Regions from separate parts of the Homo sapiens genome. Here region 2 is linked to region 1. Evidence: fine-mapped QTL for protein levels in blood plasma. A gene starts in region 1. The other region holds a variant in brackets. All regions are shown on one strand. Distances are between the middles of the regions.

What was found. PIP is the posterior inclusion probability: the model's chance that the variant is causal. The UK Biobank Pharma Proteomics Project read protein levels with antibody pairs (Olink). The fine-mapping took linkage between variants from a reference panel, not from the people measured, so its PIPs are less certain.
Region 2: its variant is fine-mapped to the plasma level of the SCRN1 protein (UK Biobank, PIP 0.99).

The regions. Positions count from the first base shown.
Region 1 is chr7:29,985,740-29,994,223 of GRCh38, forward strand. It overlaps SCRN1 (secernin 1), which reads right to left and starts at 4,062. Exons shown (of 8, transcript NM_014766.5): 1 at 3,903-4,062. FKBP14-AS1 (FKBP14 antisense RNA 1) reads left to right here and starts at 2,917. Exons shown (of 3, transcript NR_187577.1): 1 at 2,917-3,054. RefSeq lists silencers at 3,289-3,408, 3,499-3,768, 3,779-3,828, 3,849-4,188.
Region 2 is chr7:29,950,523-29,958,522 of GRCh38, forward strand. SCRN1 (secernin 1) reads right to left here. Exons shown (of 8, transcript NM_014766.5): 3 at 4,657-4,838. Among named protein-coding and RNA genes, the nearest start is that of FKBP14-AS1, 34 kb to the right of the region's middle. The variant G/A (reference allele first, on the strand shown) is at 3,860.

The DNA.
Region 1 (8,484 bases):
GTCTCATACTCAGCAGTCCCAGCCCACCACATACTCCTTCTCTCCCTTTACAGTTTCCCTGGTCACTCACTTCTTGTAGTCCCTTTTCCGTCCATCCTGTCCCCTTTTCAGTTTCTGTTTTAACTTCTCCTTACATACCCAGTTCTACAAACAGCATTATGAGCTCAGCCACCCTCCAGTTCCTGTTAAAAACCACTAGAAATATAATCCAAGGGCTGGGCGAGGTGGCTCATGCCTGTAATCCCAGCACTTTGGGAGGCCGAGGCGGGCAGATCACCTGAGGTCAGGAGTTCGAGACCAGCCCGACCAATATGGTGAAACCCTGTCTCTACTAAAAATACAAAAGTTAGCCGGGCTGTGGTGGCGCACGCCTGTAATCCCAGCTACTCAGGAGGTTGAGGCAGGAGAATCGCTTGAACCCTGGAGGCAGAGGTTGCAGTGAGCCGAGATCGTGCCACTGCACTCTAGCCTGGGTGACGGAGGGAGGCCCTGTCTCGAGAGAGAGCAAGACAGATGCGAACCATATTTGCAATTTTATATTTTCTAGTAGCCACATTTTTAAAAGTAAAGAGAAACTCATGGAATTATTTTTAGTAATATATTTTACCCAATATATCCAACATGTTACTTCAATATAAAATCAATATAAAATTATTAATGATATTTTAAATTCTTTCTTCATATTAAATTTTTGAAATTGTGTGTATATTTTACACTCAGCATATCTCAATACAAACTAGCTGCATTTCAAGTGCTCAATAGCCACATGAGGCTGGTGGCTACCAGATGAAACAGCACAGATCTAGACTCTAATGAAAACGGATTTAAAAAAAAATAACTTTTGTTTATCTGTATTCTTATTCTTCAACAGACACAAATTGCATGCATTTCTGTATTTTTACAACTTGCTATTTTAAATATCTTTGGCATATCTTCACATTCATCCTCTAATGCAAGTTAGTTTTCTAATTTTTTTAATTTTTTTTTTTTTTTTTTTTTTTTTGAGACGGAGTCTCGCTCTGTCGCCCAGGCTGGAGTGCAGTGGCACCATCTCGCCTCACTGCAACCTCCGCCTCCCGGGTTCAAGCGATTCTCCTGCCTCAGCCTCCCAAGTAGCTGGGACTACAGGCGCGTGCCACCATGCCCGGCTAATTTTTTGTATTTTTAGTAGAGACGGGGTTTCACCGTGTTAGCCAGGATGGTCTCGATCTCCTGACCTCGTGATCCGCCCGCCTCGGCCTCCCAAAGTGCTGGGATTACAGGCGTGAGCCACCGCGCCCGGCTGCAAGTTAGTTTTCTAAATGGCACATGTCACATCAGCATCTGTCTTCACTTCGATATATATATTCATATTTAGCTCCTATCTGTTCCACTGCCTCAAGACATTCTCCCTGTTCCCTGCCTCCTGCCACCTTCTCCCTCTGCACATCACTGGCTGTGAAGGTTCAGATGCCCAGAAGAAACGTTTTCCACATCTTCACCACCTCTTCACACTAACCCATGCACAATTTCTAGCTCTGCTTTAGTAGATCTAAGGTCACTGACTCATGACTCAGAAAAGTCAAATGCAAATCATAGGAAAAGCCTGTCTTCACTGCTTCAAAGTTATGTTTACAATAGGCTTGTTATTTACTTTTACTTAAAATTAGAAACAGTCGAAAAAAATGAAATGCATGGCCTACTTTGGTTCCTTTTCAAAATAAACTGGCCTAATGGTTCTCCACAAACACAAGCAACTCAATTTTTAATCAAAAAATGTACTTCTTGCCTCAAAGACTTTACTAAAATAATGTTTTTGGTTCTTAACTATAGAAACAGTTTCACCACTGGAAAATGTGAACATGAGGTAGATACAGCTTAAGAAGTTAAAAGTCTTGAATTAGGAAATTAAGGTGTTGTCATTGACTTTAAACACCTATAGACTTTGTAATTCATATTACAGTTTGGCTTCCCATTGCTCGAAGTGTTTGCCTTCCTAATAATGACAGACTTGCTGTTCTCCCCCAGGCTCTAAAAGGTAGCATGTGGAACCCGGGGGAGTTATGAGACCTGGATTTGGGTTCTCACTGCCAGTTGACAGCCAGATATATGATCTTGGCGTCCATTCGCCCCGCTGGCCTCAGCCTTCCTGCTGTAAAAAGGGGGTTGACAGCAGGCTCCTTAAGACTGCCTCCACCTCTGCCCCCCGACCTTAGCTCATCCTCCTCTATTCCATTATCCCTGAAGCATTTGCCTCCTCATGTATCTCCTTCCCAAAAGACAAGATGGCTGGCAGCACGGAAGTGAAAAGGGAAAGAAAGGCTGTTTAAAAAAAAAAAATTCTAAAATGAGTCACCTTTCAAGAATTTCCCATTTCCTCATGCCTGGGTGCTTCCTCGTGTCGCTAAATCAGTTCTTCCAATGAAACTTGATCTAAGAACCTGGTATTTGTTATGTGCACTGCTCTTGGATGATGTTTACAATGTGCACACATCTCTTTTAAGAGCTTGTAGGTATCAAACGACCTCCAGGTTGTGCATCAAAAAGACATCAGCAGCCACAGAGTCAACTTTAGTTGAGCCTGGAGAAAATCATACAAAACCGTAGAGTTTTAACTAGGTTTTGTATCATCTTTTGATAAGTTAGGAAAAATAATTACAGCTCTCCAAACTTCCCACTTAACAACTCCCAGGACCCTGCAGCACCCTAAAATCTAGCCAGCTCCAAGAATCACTCTCTACTCCATACCCGGATGAGCCTTGACTCACACTAATTCCCTCCCTGAGGCTTAAGTCAGGGGGCAGCTGATGGTTGTGGTCTGTGCTGCTTCCGCCTGGCCTATTTTTCATGCTGCCATTTTGAATTAGCATAGGTTTCCTCCGCAACTGATGCATCTTCTAACCAGGCTGGGAACACAACACGCGCACACGCGCACACACACACGCACGCACCCACCCCACCCGGCTGCCGGACGCAAGCGTAAGTCAAGGACTTGCATGCTAGAATCAGACAGAAAATCCAGAAAAGCCACGTTATTTAACAGAACCCTACAAGGTCAGCTTTGAGTCAAAGCAGGTAACAGTTTCCTTCGATGTTTTCATGGACATTTTTATTCCCAAATCCGAGTTCTCGCCAATTCTCTAAAGTTCAAGCGCCCCTCCTGCTTTGCAGACCACATTTCTCTCGGCCCTCGCGAGTGAGGTCGCCAAATACTCGACGCCTCAAGAGCGAGCCGAGGAGGCAGAGGCCGACCAAGCCGGCCTCTCGGCAGCCCCGCCCGGCGCCCCGCGGAGAACGCCCGGGTGCGGCTCGAGGGAAGTTGTGTCAAGTCCCACGCGCGGCCCGCGGAGAACCCAGGGGCGGCCCGCGCGCGTCGGCCTAGCGGGGAGGGCTGCTCCGGGACACGGTGCGGCGGCCGCGGGCGAGTTGGACGCGCTGGCAGAGCCGGGCCGAAGGCGGCGGGCGTCTCCGGGCAGCCATGTTCGCGGCGCCCGCCCGCGCAGCAGGTACGGCACCTCGGGGAAGGTGCCCGGCTCGCCCCAGACCCCAGGGTGGCGAGGCCAGGGGCCCACAGGCACATCCCAGTGGGCAGCAGGTTGGCTGCCAGGAAAAGGAAACCCAGGAAGAGCAGCGCGGGGAACCCGGCTGCGGTGCGGGAGCCCGGGGCCGGCATCCCTCCACTGCACCCCCGCAGTCCCCGAGCCGAGTCACCCCGGCTTCAGGCCGAGGCCACCTCTCCTCTGACCGCCCCCAGGCTCCCAGCCCGCCCGGGCCAGCACCGGGAATCGGCCTGGGGTAACGCTACCCGCGGGTTCGGAGGGACAGCGGGAGGAGATGAAACGCAGGAGGTGGCGATGGCGGGTGGGGTGAAACCGCCGGGAAAGCAGCGCTGCAAACGCCCTGCGCTCCCAGACGCGGCTCACCTGGGGCGGCGGGCTCCGGGCTCCGCTCTCCGCTCTGCGGTGCTGAGGCTGCGGCCGCCGAGGGTGCGGGTGCTGCCGGGTCCGGATTACTGCGGCGACCTCGGGGGCTGCAGCTGCAGTGGCGGAGGCGGCCGCCGGGCGCTTCCCCCTACCCAGACTCCCGGCGCTGGGGCCCGCCGCCCCCCGCAGCAGCTGGCCCGACTCACGTGACCGCGGGCCCACCCTCCGCCTCCCCCACCCCGGCCCCCGGGGCCCCGCCGCACCCCGCGCGTCTGGCTGCACGGGCCGCGGCGCTGCTCACCGTCGAGTAGGGAGGGGGCCTGGGAGCTGGAGGAGCGGCCGAGAGGGCGTATCTCGCCGCAGAAAGTGGCCCCCTCTTTGCTAGATTTTTATTTCTTGGTTGTGGCTCTCAAAAGGGAAAACCCGGGCTTCAAGGAGCCAGGCCCAGCATCCTTTTGGCGCCTCTTCCCGACGTTTGGTTGCTACGTCCGGGCCTCGGCGCCCACACAAGATTTCCCCGGAGAGAAATGTGTCCTGTACCTTGTTGACTCGCACGTCCAAGTCGAGTCCCTGGTTTTAAAAGTGCCGTCCTGTACCATGTTGGTAAGCCAGACCCTGTCCCAGGTACTTGGACATTGTGGCCTAGAGAGGTTAAGTAACTTGCCCAAGGTCACACAGCACGTAACTAAGCCAAGATTCCATATCTGGGTTAATAAAGTTATGTACAGGGACTTGTGTGTTGTGTGTCTGTGTGTGTGTGTGTGTGTGTGTGTTGATGCCAGCGTCAACTCCATCTTTTATAAGTAAATAAGAAAAGACTATCTCAAAAGATATGAAGACGTAATTCAGAGGAAAATAAATGCAATTCTATCCTGGCACACGAAAAGATATTCAGGCTCACTTAACTGCAAATCAAATATGTGGGGTAGCATCTTCCACCAGCCAGATTAACAAAAATCAAAACATTTTGAGTCTTGCTTTGTCGCCCAGTCTGGAATGCAGTGGCAGGATCTCGGCTCACTGCAAACTCCGCCTCCTGCCTCCCGCCTCCCGCCTCCCGCCTCCCGGGTTCAAGCGATTCTCGTGCCTCAGCCTCCCAAGTGGCTGAGACTACAGACCCACGCCACCAGCCTCGCTAATTTTTTTTGATTTTTAGTAGAGATGGGGTTTCACCATGTTGCCCAGGCCGGTCTCAAACTCCTGAGCTTAGGCAATCCGCCTGCCTCTACTATCCAGCTTCCTTTAAAAAGGAGAATGATCTTTATTTGCTAATACAAAACTATTTCCAACCTATACTAACTAAAGAAAAATAAAAAGCTAGGTGCAGAACGTTGTGTGTGTTATTTGTGGGAAGAAAATATATATGTATGTCTGTACTTATTTTTGTAAATGCACAGAGTATCTTTGGAAGAGTACGTAAGAACCTGTAATAGATGCCACCAGGGAGCAGAACTGGGAGACTGGGTGCTGGGGAGAGAAGGAGACTTTTTTCCATGCCCTTTGAATGTTGAGCCTGTGCTTACAGTCTGACACATGAGTAAACGGATAGTGGGGAAGGGCTGAGGAAGTTGGTGTAGGTACTGCAGAATAGAGCATTGGTTCGTAGACTCTTGGAGCACAAAGGTACTTTACTGTTCTTTTAGTCTAGCCAAGAAAACTGTAGCCAATGAGTCTAAATAATCAATATTAGAAATTTCTAGCGGGCTTATTCCTGGGTTCCAGCCCAGATCTATGGAATTCAGAGTCTCTGGGGCTGGAGCCAGGGAACCCGCATTTTTCAAGCTCTTTAGTTGTTTCTCTTGCATGTTAAAGTCTGAAAGTCCGTGAGGTGTGGGTAGGGAGAGCATTAGGAAAAATAGGTAATGCATGCTGGGCTTAATACCTAAGTGATGGGTTGATAGGTGCAGCAAACCACCGTGGTACACGTTTACTTATATAACAAATCTGCACATCCTGCATATATACCCCAGAACTTAAAATAAATATTAAACTTTTTTTAAAAGTCTCAGAGTCGCTGTTTTATTTTTTGTTTGTTTTGAGATGGGATCTCGCTCTGTCACCCAGCCTCGAGGGAAGTGGCTCACTGCAGCCTCTACCTCCTAGGCTCAAGTGATCCTCCTACCTCAGCCTCCTGAGTAGATAGGACTACAAGCATGTGCCACCATGCCTAGCTACTTTTTAAAATATTTTTGTAGAAATGGAGTCTCACTATGTTGCCCAGGCTGGTTTCAAGCTCCTGGACTCAAATGATCCTCCTGCCTTAGCCATCTGAAGTGTTAAGATTACAGACGTGAGCCACCGTGCCCAGCCAGAGTCACTGTTTTAAATGTCTAGTTTAAGACTACACCACTACTAGAAAGGCAAATGCAATCCTGTGCCTTCCTATAGCCAGTATATGTCATTTGTTGTGTAAAGGATGGCACTTGCACCCTACGCTGCTCCCCTGGAGGCAGCCATATGCTCAGTACACGGATAGGGGATACTGCCAACCTGCCTGCCTGGCCTGAGATCTTTGAAGCCTGTTGGTTTGTCCCTACACAGCCACAGGAGCTTTGAGGCCAGGAGCCCAGGAACACATGGAGATTGAAAGACACCTGCTTTCCCCAGGGTCTGCATGGAGAAGCTTATTATATGGCACTATGAACGCTTATTAAACAGCAGCAATGACCGGGCATGGTGGCTCATGCCTGTAATCCCAGCACTTTGGGAGACCAAGGCGGGTGGATCACGAGGTCAGAAGATCAAGACCATCCTGGCCAACATGGTGAAACCCCGTCTCTACTGAAAATACAAAAATTAGCTGTGTGTGGTGGTGCGTGCCTATAATCCCAGCTACTTGGGAGGCTGAGGCAGGAGAATAGCTTGAACCAGGGAGTCAGAGGTTGCAGTGAGCCAAGATCGTGCCATTGCACTCCAGCCTGGGTGAGAGAGTGAGACTCCGTCTTAAAAAACAAAAACCAGCAGCAATACACTTATTTTGTCTCTGCTTTGTATCCAAAAGACAGTCCCTACTATTATTTGAGCTGCATAAATAGAGATAAGAGAACAGAACTGTCCAACAAATGTGGAGAACACCAAGAAATATCAGTAAGGGCTTTAATCATTGGCCTCTATCAATTATGTGAGGTTTAACTTTGAGTAAATTATAAGATTTCCATGAGCTAGCTTGCAAGGAAAAAAAATGTCTTAAATGACTTGCAACTGTTACACGGTCATTTATATTCCATCTAGTCATATTCAGAGACTTAAGAGCTAAAAAATACAAGTATAACAGATTTCCTTTTTTCTCTTCCGCCCTGAGAAGGACATGATCCCTACAGAGGTTACTCTCTGCAGCTGAGGCAGAAGGAGATTATAGCTAGAGGCTGTCTGCTAAACATGTCTGGAGGGTACACTCAGTGATGACCACAGATACTAATAGTGTTTTCAGTTTGGAACAATTATGAATAAAGCTGCTAATAATATTTATCTACAAGTTTTATGTAAGTGTAGGTTTTCATTTCTCTTGGGTAAACATTAGATTGGTGCAAAAGTAATTGCAGTTTTTGCCATTACTGTTTTAAAAATGGCAAAAACTGCAATCACTTTTGCACCAACCAACCTAATACTTAAGAGTGAAGTGGGTGAGTCATACGGCAGGTGTATATTTAAATTTATAAAAAGTTGCCAAACTGTATTCCAAAGTGGTTTTTACCATTTTACATTATATCAGAAATATATGAGAGTTCCAGTTGCTCCACATCCTTATCAACACTTGCTATTATCAATCTTCTAAATTTTATCGATTCTCACAAATGTGTACTGAAATCTCCTCGTGGTTTTAATTTATATTGCCTTTTTTTTTTTTTTTTTGAGACAGCATCTCACTCTGTCTCCAGGCTGGAGTGCAGTGGTACGATCTCGGCTCACTGCAACTTCTACCTCCCAGGTTCAAGCAATTCTCCTGCCTCATTCTCCTGAGTAGCTGAGACTACAGCTGCACACCACCATGCCTAGCTAATTTTTCTATCTTTAGTAGAGATGGGGTTTTACCATGTTGGCCAGGATGATCTTGATCTCTTGACCTCATGAGCCACCCGCCTCAGCCTCCCAAAGTGCTGGGATTATAGGCATGAACTACCATGTCCAGCCTATATTTCTTTGCTGATTAATAATGGTGAGCAACTTTTCCTATACTTGTTAGCCATTCATATATGTTCTTTTGGAAAGTGTTTAAGTCTTTTGCCTGTTAAAAAGTTTTATATTTTTAATTAGTATTATTATTACATGTTAAGAATTCCTTATATCTGGATACAAGTTCTTTATCATATTTATGTATTACAAATATATTCTTTCAGTATATGTCTCGCTTTTCATTAGTGGTGTCTTTTGAAGAGAAGATTTTAATTTTGTTATGCTCAATTTATCAATATTTTTTCTTTTATAGTTAATACTTTTTATGTCCTAAGAAATTTTGCCTACTCCAAGGTTGCAAAGATTTTCTTCTATGTTTACATCCAGAGATGTATAGTTTTTTAGCACTTATGTTAAGACCATGGTCCATTTCAAGTAAATTTTTGAATAAGTGGAGGTAAAATTCCAA
Region 2 (8,000 bases), 35 kb before region 1:
AGCCCGGAGGCTGGTCTGCTAGTTCCGGGTGGAGTACGCAGCCCAGAGTGAGAACTTATGGTGCTTTTTCCAGGCTTGCCCATGACCCGATCAGCACACACTTCCTCCCTTCTGAGCCCATAAAAACCCCAGACTCAGTCAGACTCACACAGACGTTAGGACTACCAGCTGCAGGAAGGAGCTACCAAGTTTGGGCCTCCTTGACTCGTTGGGATGACCTGCCTGCAGCAGAAGGGAGCTACCCACTACAGGTCTCCTCTCTGCTGAGAGCTGGATACTCGTCAGGATGACCTGCCTGCAGAATGGAGCTACCCACTTTGGGTCCCCTGAGAGCTGTTCTGTCACTCAATGAAGCTCCTCACCACCTTGCTCACTCTCCAGCTGTCCATGTATCTCACTCTTCCTGAACATGGGACAAGAGCTTGGGACCCGCCAAATGGTGGGACTGAAAGAGCTATAACACAAACAGTGCTGAAGCACACCCCCAGCCCCCACCATTTGCAAAATTGCAGGTGATGAAAAGGAGAGAAGAGCTGCAGCCCTTTGGGGAGTCCAGACCTAGGGGCTCCCTGAGCCAGGACTGTGACACTCTCTTTGGGGCTCTGCAGTTCCTGGCATTTCCAAGCTTCCAGGCACCACGTTTCTTGGTGACTGCAGTGGAAGCCATTTGCAGTACGCCTGGTCCAGCTGCAGCCTCGCACAGAGCTAGTGCCTGTGCCAACGCCTAGAGCTGCCCATCCCGCCACAGCTGGCACACCTGGCTGTGTGCAGTGGCTGGACCCCATGCTTGCTCACACACCCCTTTCCTCTCTGCGCCTGGCTTGTGCTTGGAAGGCATGGGATCCAGGCCAGTAGCATAAGCTGAGTACAGTGTGCAGGGCCAAGTGGTGGAACAAGCCCAGCAGCCCGACCAAAACTCAGGCAAAGGTGCCACCAGCCACAGAGGTTTCCGGCTGGAAAAGCAACACCGTAAGGATCGTGTGACACTGGGATTACAGGCATGAGCCACTGCACCTGGCCAAATTCCCACTTTTATGTTAGCTTCTATTGGCTACTCATTACTTGGAACCAACTTCATGAAACATGCAAAAATGTGTACGTGTCTTTATATGCCTCTTCCTCAGGAGAAAGGGACTAGTGGTCAGAGAACAGTGAATCAAAAATAACAGATGAAGCTTAGCTTTGAGATAAATGTCACTGAAAACGCATTATAAAAACAATATTGCCTAATGCTTACATTCCCACAAGCCTCTAGGAAACATACACAAATTATACCTTTATCTTAAAATCAGTGCCTATTACATTGCTACTGTCATTCCCTTATGTCTCTTTGAACTGAGGTTGGATTTCACATGCTGCTGGAAAGTGCAAAGTACCAGGATAAGTATAGGGGCAACTACTGTATTCATTGAATAATCAACCACAGTCTAGCAGGCCCTTGAAAGAGCATGTGAAATGGACATAGCCTGCTCTCATAGAAGCTGTCCAGGGAGGAACTGGCACTAGACACAGAGTGCAAGCAAGGCCAGAGAAAGTAGTGGTTCCTCACACAGCAATACCTAGGGAGGCACTGAGCCCCAAATTAAGAGAATGAAACCAACTGATAGAAAGTTTCCTGTGGAGCAGCGGTTCTCACCGTAACCGTGCATCAGCACCAGCTGGAGAACTTGTTAAAACAGGTTGCTGGCCCCTGGGTGTGAAATAGGGACCGACAATTTACATTTCTAGCAAGTTCCCAGGTGATGCTTGTTCACCAGCCATACTTTGAGAACCACTACTCTAGAACTTGCCACTCAAACTGTGGTTTTTTGACTTGTAGTATCAATATCATCTGGAGCTTCTTAAAAATTAATACTAGAATTAAATCATTAAAAAGGAAATCTGGGGTGGGATGTGGTGGTCCACGCCTGTAATCCCAGCACTCTGAGAGGCTGAGGCAGGCGGATCACTTGAGGTCAGAAGTTCGAGACCAGCCTGGTCAACATGGTGAAACCCCGTCCCTACTAAAAATACAAAAATTAGCTGGGTGTGGTGGCATACACCTGTAATCCCATCTACTCAGGAGGCTGAGGCAGGAGAATCGCTTGAACCTGGGAGGCGGAGGTTGCAATCAGCCGAGATCATACCACTGCACTCCTAGGAAACAGAGCAAGACTTGTCTAAAAAAAAAAAAGAGAGAGAGAGAGAGAATGCTGGGTAATGAGCATGAGTTACTTTTAGGATTTGGTTGGTATGAAATGACCCTTCAAAATCTGGCTATGCTTGGCTGAACTGATCATAGCTGCTTTAAAGATGAACTCAAAAGATCCACTTAAGGTGCAGATGCCTGTGACTCCATCCCCACCCTGAAGAACCTACCAGTGCTCTTCACACCCTTTTTATTACAATAGCTGGACATGGCTAGCCCAAGATGGAGTTAACGTTATATGGTGAAGGTTAAACTCTCACCCTGTCATCTACTCCTGACCTTGCTAATTATCACAATGCCAAGTCTGTGACAAACATATCTTCTGTGTCTACCTCCCTCAGCCTTGCAGCTTCAGGTCAAATGAACCTGCCCCTCAAAGCATTCCCAAATATGACCAGTCTGTGATAATCTGTGAACATCCCGCAGTGTTTGCTGAAGGCCACACCCTGGAATTCTGTGCCATTCACGTGGCATCAAATCTCAGATCACTTTGAGTTACCTCTCTCCTACTATCTTCTTATATTATTCTTAAAATTTCCATTGCTCAATTTTCTTCTTCCTGCAACCAGACTAAAATCCCTTTGAAGCTTTGAGCTGCTTCATGTACCCACAGAGTCTAGAACAAAGTAGATATTCAGTAAACTCCTGTTGCTTTATTGGTTGATAATCTTAAAAAGATATATCAGGTGCTCTGAAGAAAGGCAAAAAATCCTCTTCCACTGTCCCTTAGAAATCAACTGTTAAAATGGTAATTTTGCCTGTTCTATAAGTCTCATACTGCAAATACAGTAAAAAATACTGGAGAGCTGTCAAAACATAAGCTAAAAAAAAAAAAACTTCTTGTTATTCTATACATTTCATTTTGCTAATCAAGAGAAAACTAGCTATATATAACTGGTTTTTAAAAACTGGCTTTTTCTGCCTTTTCCCCAGCTCAGGGAAGCTGCTCCTCCTGAGTTTATAAGAATGAGGAACAGTAAGGAAAGGTAAGGAAGGCAGGAAGTCACTGTGCTACCAAAAGGGTGTCCCTCGCAGACCTCTCCATCAGGTGGCAGAGGAGTGAGTTCCCGAGACCACTGTCTAAATGTGCCATTTCCCCCTACAAAACCAAAATCCAACCCCATTCCTTTTTCTAGGATGTTAGCTTTGGGAGTTCTTCGGAAGTCATCCAATCTAGACCTCATATTGAAAAAATGAGGAAACTGTGGCCCAGAGAGGTGATGTAACTTGGTACATCCACACTGAAAGCCAAGAACTCCAGCTCCCAGCCCAATCTTCTTTCAACTATGTCATGATTTTATTTCATTTCACTATTTCAGGGACAAAAAAAGGCATTTCAGAATGTTGCTTTGTTCCAGCCTACCTTCTACTTTAGTCATTCATTCAAAATTCAGTTATTGATCACTCATTACAGGCCAGGCACACAGTTCCCAGTGCTTATGACACAGCAGTGTACAGACAAAGATCCCTGCCCTATCCAGCTCGCACAGCAGGTTCCTTCTGCTGTGTAGTGGCTGGGAGAGGGGAAAAAGGAAGAAAAAATAACTGAGACATAGAGAGGAAAGGAGGGAAGTGATCTCTGTTCTATTTTTCTTTTCTAGTTTATGATTTTTCATATTTTTATATATATATTATATATTTCAAGTACTATAAAATCCACCCATTTAAACT[G/A]TACAGTTCAGTGGTTTTTAGTGTACTCACAAAGTTGTGCAGCCATCACCACAATCTAAGGTTTAGAACATTTTCAACACCCGCAAAAGAAAGCTCATGCCCATTAGGAATCACTCCCCATTCTCTCACCCACACCCAAACCCCAGGCAACCACTAATCTAACTTCCTGCCTCTATGGATTTGCCTATTCTGTATATTTCATATAAATAGAATCACAATATGTGACCTTTTGTGTCTGGCTTCTCTCTCAGTATAATGTTTTCAAGATCATTATGCTTTAGTATGTATCTATACTTGATTCTTTGTTCATTTGTTTTTGATGGAGACTCGTTGTTGTCGCCTCAGCTGGAGTGCAATGACATGATCTCGGCTCACTGCAACCTCCGTCTTCCAGGTTCCAGCAATTCTCCTGTCTCAGCCTCCTGAGTAGCTGGGATTATAGGCGCCTAGCACCACGTTCGGCTAATTTTTGTATTTTTCGTAGAGACGGGGTTTCACCATGTTGGCCAGGCTGGTCTCGAACTCCTGACCTCAGGTGATCCACCTGCCTCGGCCTCCCAAAGTGCTGGGATTACAGGCATGAGCCACCATGCCCAGCCACTTGATTTTTTTTTATTGTTAAGTAATATTCCATTGTAATCCACTCATTTATCTCATCATCTTAAAGTTTCTATCAAAAGGCACACATCATCTTTGGAAGGATTATGTTAAAAAATGCAAGGTTTAGGGAGAAATAAATCCTGTCCCCATTTCCAACCTTTTCTAGGAAGTTGTTTCAAAGAATCACCATGCAGTACCTGACCAGATCCATCCCCAGCAAGGCTTCTATCTCGGCAGCTGGCTCTCTGGTGTTGATGGCTTCATTGGCTATGCACACTCCATGTTCATTGGCTCCCATTTCTGCTCCCCAGAGCCAGGCGGGTCTGCTTATCATTATGGCATAGGTCCTTGGAACTTGGTCGATTGAAATGTAAGTGCACTGAAAAACAAACACAGGAAAGAAAGCGCCATCACCTGTCAGGTACCACCTCATTTCTGCCTGGGTACTTATACTGAACCATCATATTAGTTACAAACAGAGCCAAAAAATAAAAGGCCTTGGGAATACCCTGATTTTTAAGTCTTCACAATGCAGCTCAAAAGTCTCCATGGTGAGTTTCAGACTGTGTGGCTTATGCCAATCTATTCCTGGTGCTCACGTAATAGGGCAATCATCTTGAACCAGGTATTCAGCCAATCATCATCCTGAACATCCTAAGCCTGCCCATTTCAACAGGCACAGGCGGCTGCCAGCATTCACCAATATTGAACACAGCTATTTACGAGCCCTACCTTCAAAAGAAACTTCACCTAGAAGCCTAAGATAGAAAGCAGGTAAAAGGGAAGATCTTTGCCTAAAGAAAGCAGAACCCTGAGTCCCCCTGCAAGGACCCTTTGGGTTTCCTGAAACACAGTTTGATAACCTACATGGTTGCTCTAGTGGTAGAAAACAGAAAAGGATAATAACATTTGCATTTAACTACTGCATTACACTGTGGGATTTCCTGCCTGTCCCATTTGATCCTCACACTAAGACAGTGAGGTGGACACAGAAGGAAACAGTCCCATGGAGGTGCATCTCCAGCTGCTGTCAGAACTGCAGAACACACAACTTAGTGGTGCATCTTACCTTCTCCAGGCTGCAGTGGCTTTACCTGGAAAATGGGGGAGCTAATTTGAGTCAAACTATTTCTTCCCAAGTATTTTTAACCTCAGAACACCTTCTTCACACGAACTCTTACACAGAATCATAAGCACAATAAAATCAGTCAAAGTATGTCCAGGCAAAGGGAGGAAGAGGCCCGGGACCAGGATGTGGGTAACCCTCAGAGTCTCGCCCTCCTGTGCTTCCCTTTCCCCTCCCCACGTTGTGACCCACGGCAGAGGAACCTGCAACTAGCTTCCCCATGGGGGCCTCCTGACTCTGACATTCTACGAGCCTATGACACACCCTTTGTGTGGTGGACGCTGTATTGAATTCAAGTCTCTAAGTTACACAGTGCTCTGGAGCTCTCAAGGGAGAATTTTATCAGCTGCAGGAATCATTTACATTTTAAACGGGGCAGCTGAAAGCAACAGCAGCCTTAGATCTTTCTTTTTTTAACTCAAGACCCAGCTATATCGACTGAATGCAGCCCACAAAGCTATTCTGTATTGATTTCCCATAATCGCTAAACCTCAGGTAAGAGCTGAAACCCGTGTGACACACACACTCACTGGTCAGGTGACTTTGGGTCTGCACAATTCATGTTAAGGTGTTGCTCTGCACTGGGATAATGTCATTTTACTTGATAAATATTTGCAAACTGAAAACTAATTATATCCAGAGGTTTTCAAGAGACTCTTGAATTTTTCATGGCAAACTGACAATAAAATATACTCAAGATTTTCCCTCTATGCAGTTCCCAAAAGTTATTTATTTAAAAAAAAAATGATTCTTGTAGAGCACGAAGCTGGCCAGAGCAGTAATCAAACTCTGCTCCTCTGTGCTCTTCTAAATGGAATTGACGTTTACATCTTAACATTGCACTCTATGTCAAAAAGTAGTCCAGGCATTGACCAACACTTTCCAAAACCCCTGTCCGCACTGAGTGCCAGTGGCAACTTTTGTCTTGAAAACAATGAGTAAATAGGAAAAGAATCTCAGCTTCTTAAGCACAGATTTATCATACAGGTTTTTAAAAGGGCAGAAAAAAAGTAAAAATTAGGAAATGGTTTATTTGTCTTCAAATTCATTTTTACACACTCATTTCCATTTCCCCAATTATTTACAGAACACCAACTACATGCAAAGCATTTTGTGCTAAATGCTGCAAGCAGAAAATCAGTGAGGAGGCCCAGGCCCTGTCCTTTTGGCTGGGGAGGAAGGCAAAGGCGCGCACACAAATTCCTACGAGCCCAGGCCAGCTTCAGTGTCTCCCAGGCCTGCCTGCTTCATTCCTGAAGCATCGTGCCACTGCCTCCTGCTTTGCCCTTCTGATCCACCCAGCCCAGCTCTGCTTTTCCTCTTTGCCGTTCCATTCCATTTATCCCCTTCTGAAATACTACAGAACTGATGGACTTATTACATGTACTGTTTATGTATACTATCTCCCCCAGCTAGAGTGTAAGCCCCAAGAGGGAAGGGGGATATCTTTGTTATTTAGTTCACTGACATGCCCCAAGTCTGGTATATATCAGGCATCAATAAGCCTTTTGTTGGATCGGTGGCTGAATGGATGGCTGGAGAAATTACAAAGCTCTAAGGGAGCACAGAAGGTAAAAGTCCAAAGAAATGAGGAAACACATCCGCATGGTCCGCTAGAGGCTGTATCACGTGGGAGAAATCTGGGTTGACCTTAAAAAATGGGCCAGCCATCAAGGTACTCCAGACAGAGCTAAGGGCTTAAGAGAGGAAGGGGCATGTGAAGGGTCTCTATGGTCCAGAGAGGTCCCTGCTGTGCCATGTGGGGGAGCTGCCATGATGTCATTAAGGCACAGAACTACAAGGGCTTAATACAGATTGCCTGATTAAAAAAATGTTGACAATTGAATCAAAAAGACCAGATGGTCTTTGCAGGAGTTCAAAATATATGCAGCCAACTTGATGTTTTTCAGGCCAAACTCGGAATGGTGAGGAAGGAAGGGGATCCCCAAGTAGCCAGATGGGCCCAATCAGCCCTCCTAAGCACCAGACCGAAAGCCAGGCAGCCAGATCCCTTCACAGGCCCCGAGCCTGGAACACATGCCCCTTGCTGCATCTTTGTCACGGGCCACAGAGCACGGGCCTCATAAGGGCTCTTCTATGACAGCCATTCACACCTGCTCCATTATGTTTTAAATCTGGCTAATCACAACCAGGTGGGGTTGGGGAGGGGTAAACACACTTGTCTCATGTAGATAGACTGGCTACTTAAAATCCCACTTTGGGAGCAGATCTCACAAAATCAGGAACACTTACACAAAATTTAATTAGCTCAACTTGGTAAAGTCAGCCATCTAGAACATGAACTCCACAGCCACTTTTAAATATAAAATCCACCCACCTTTACAACTGCCACATTATTAATGAGCCAGAGAAGTGGGATTTGAGGAAGCAAAAGAGGTTTCTCTAGGTACAAAT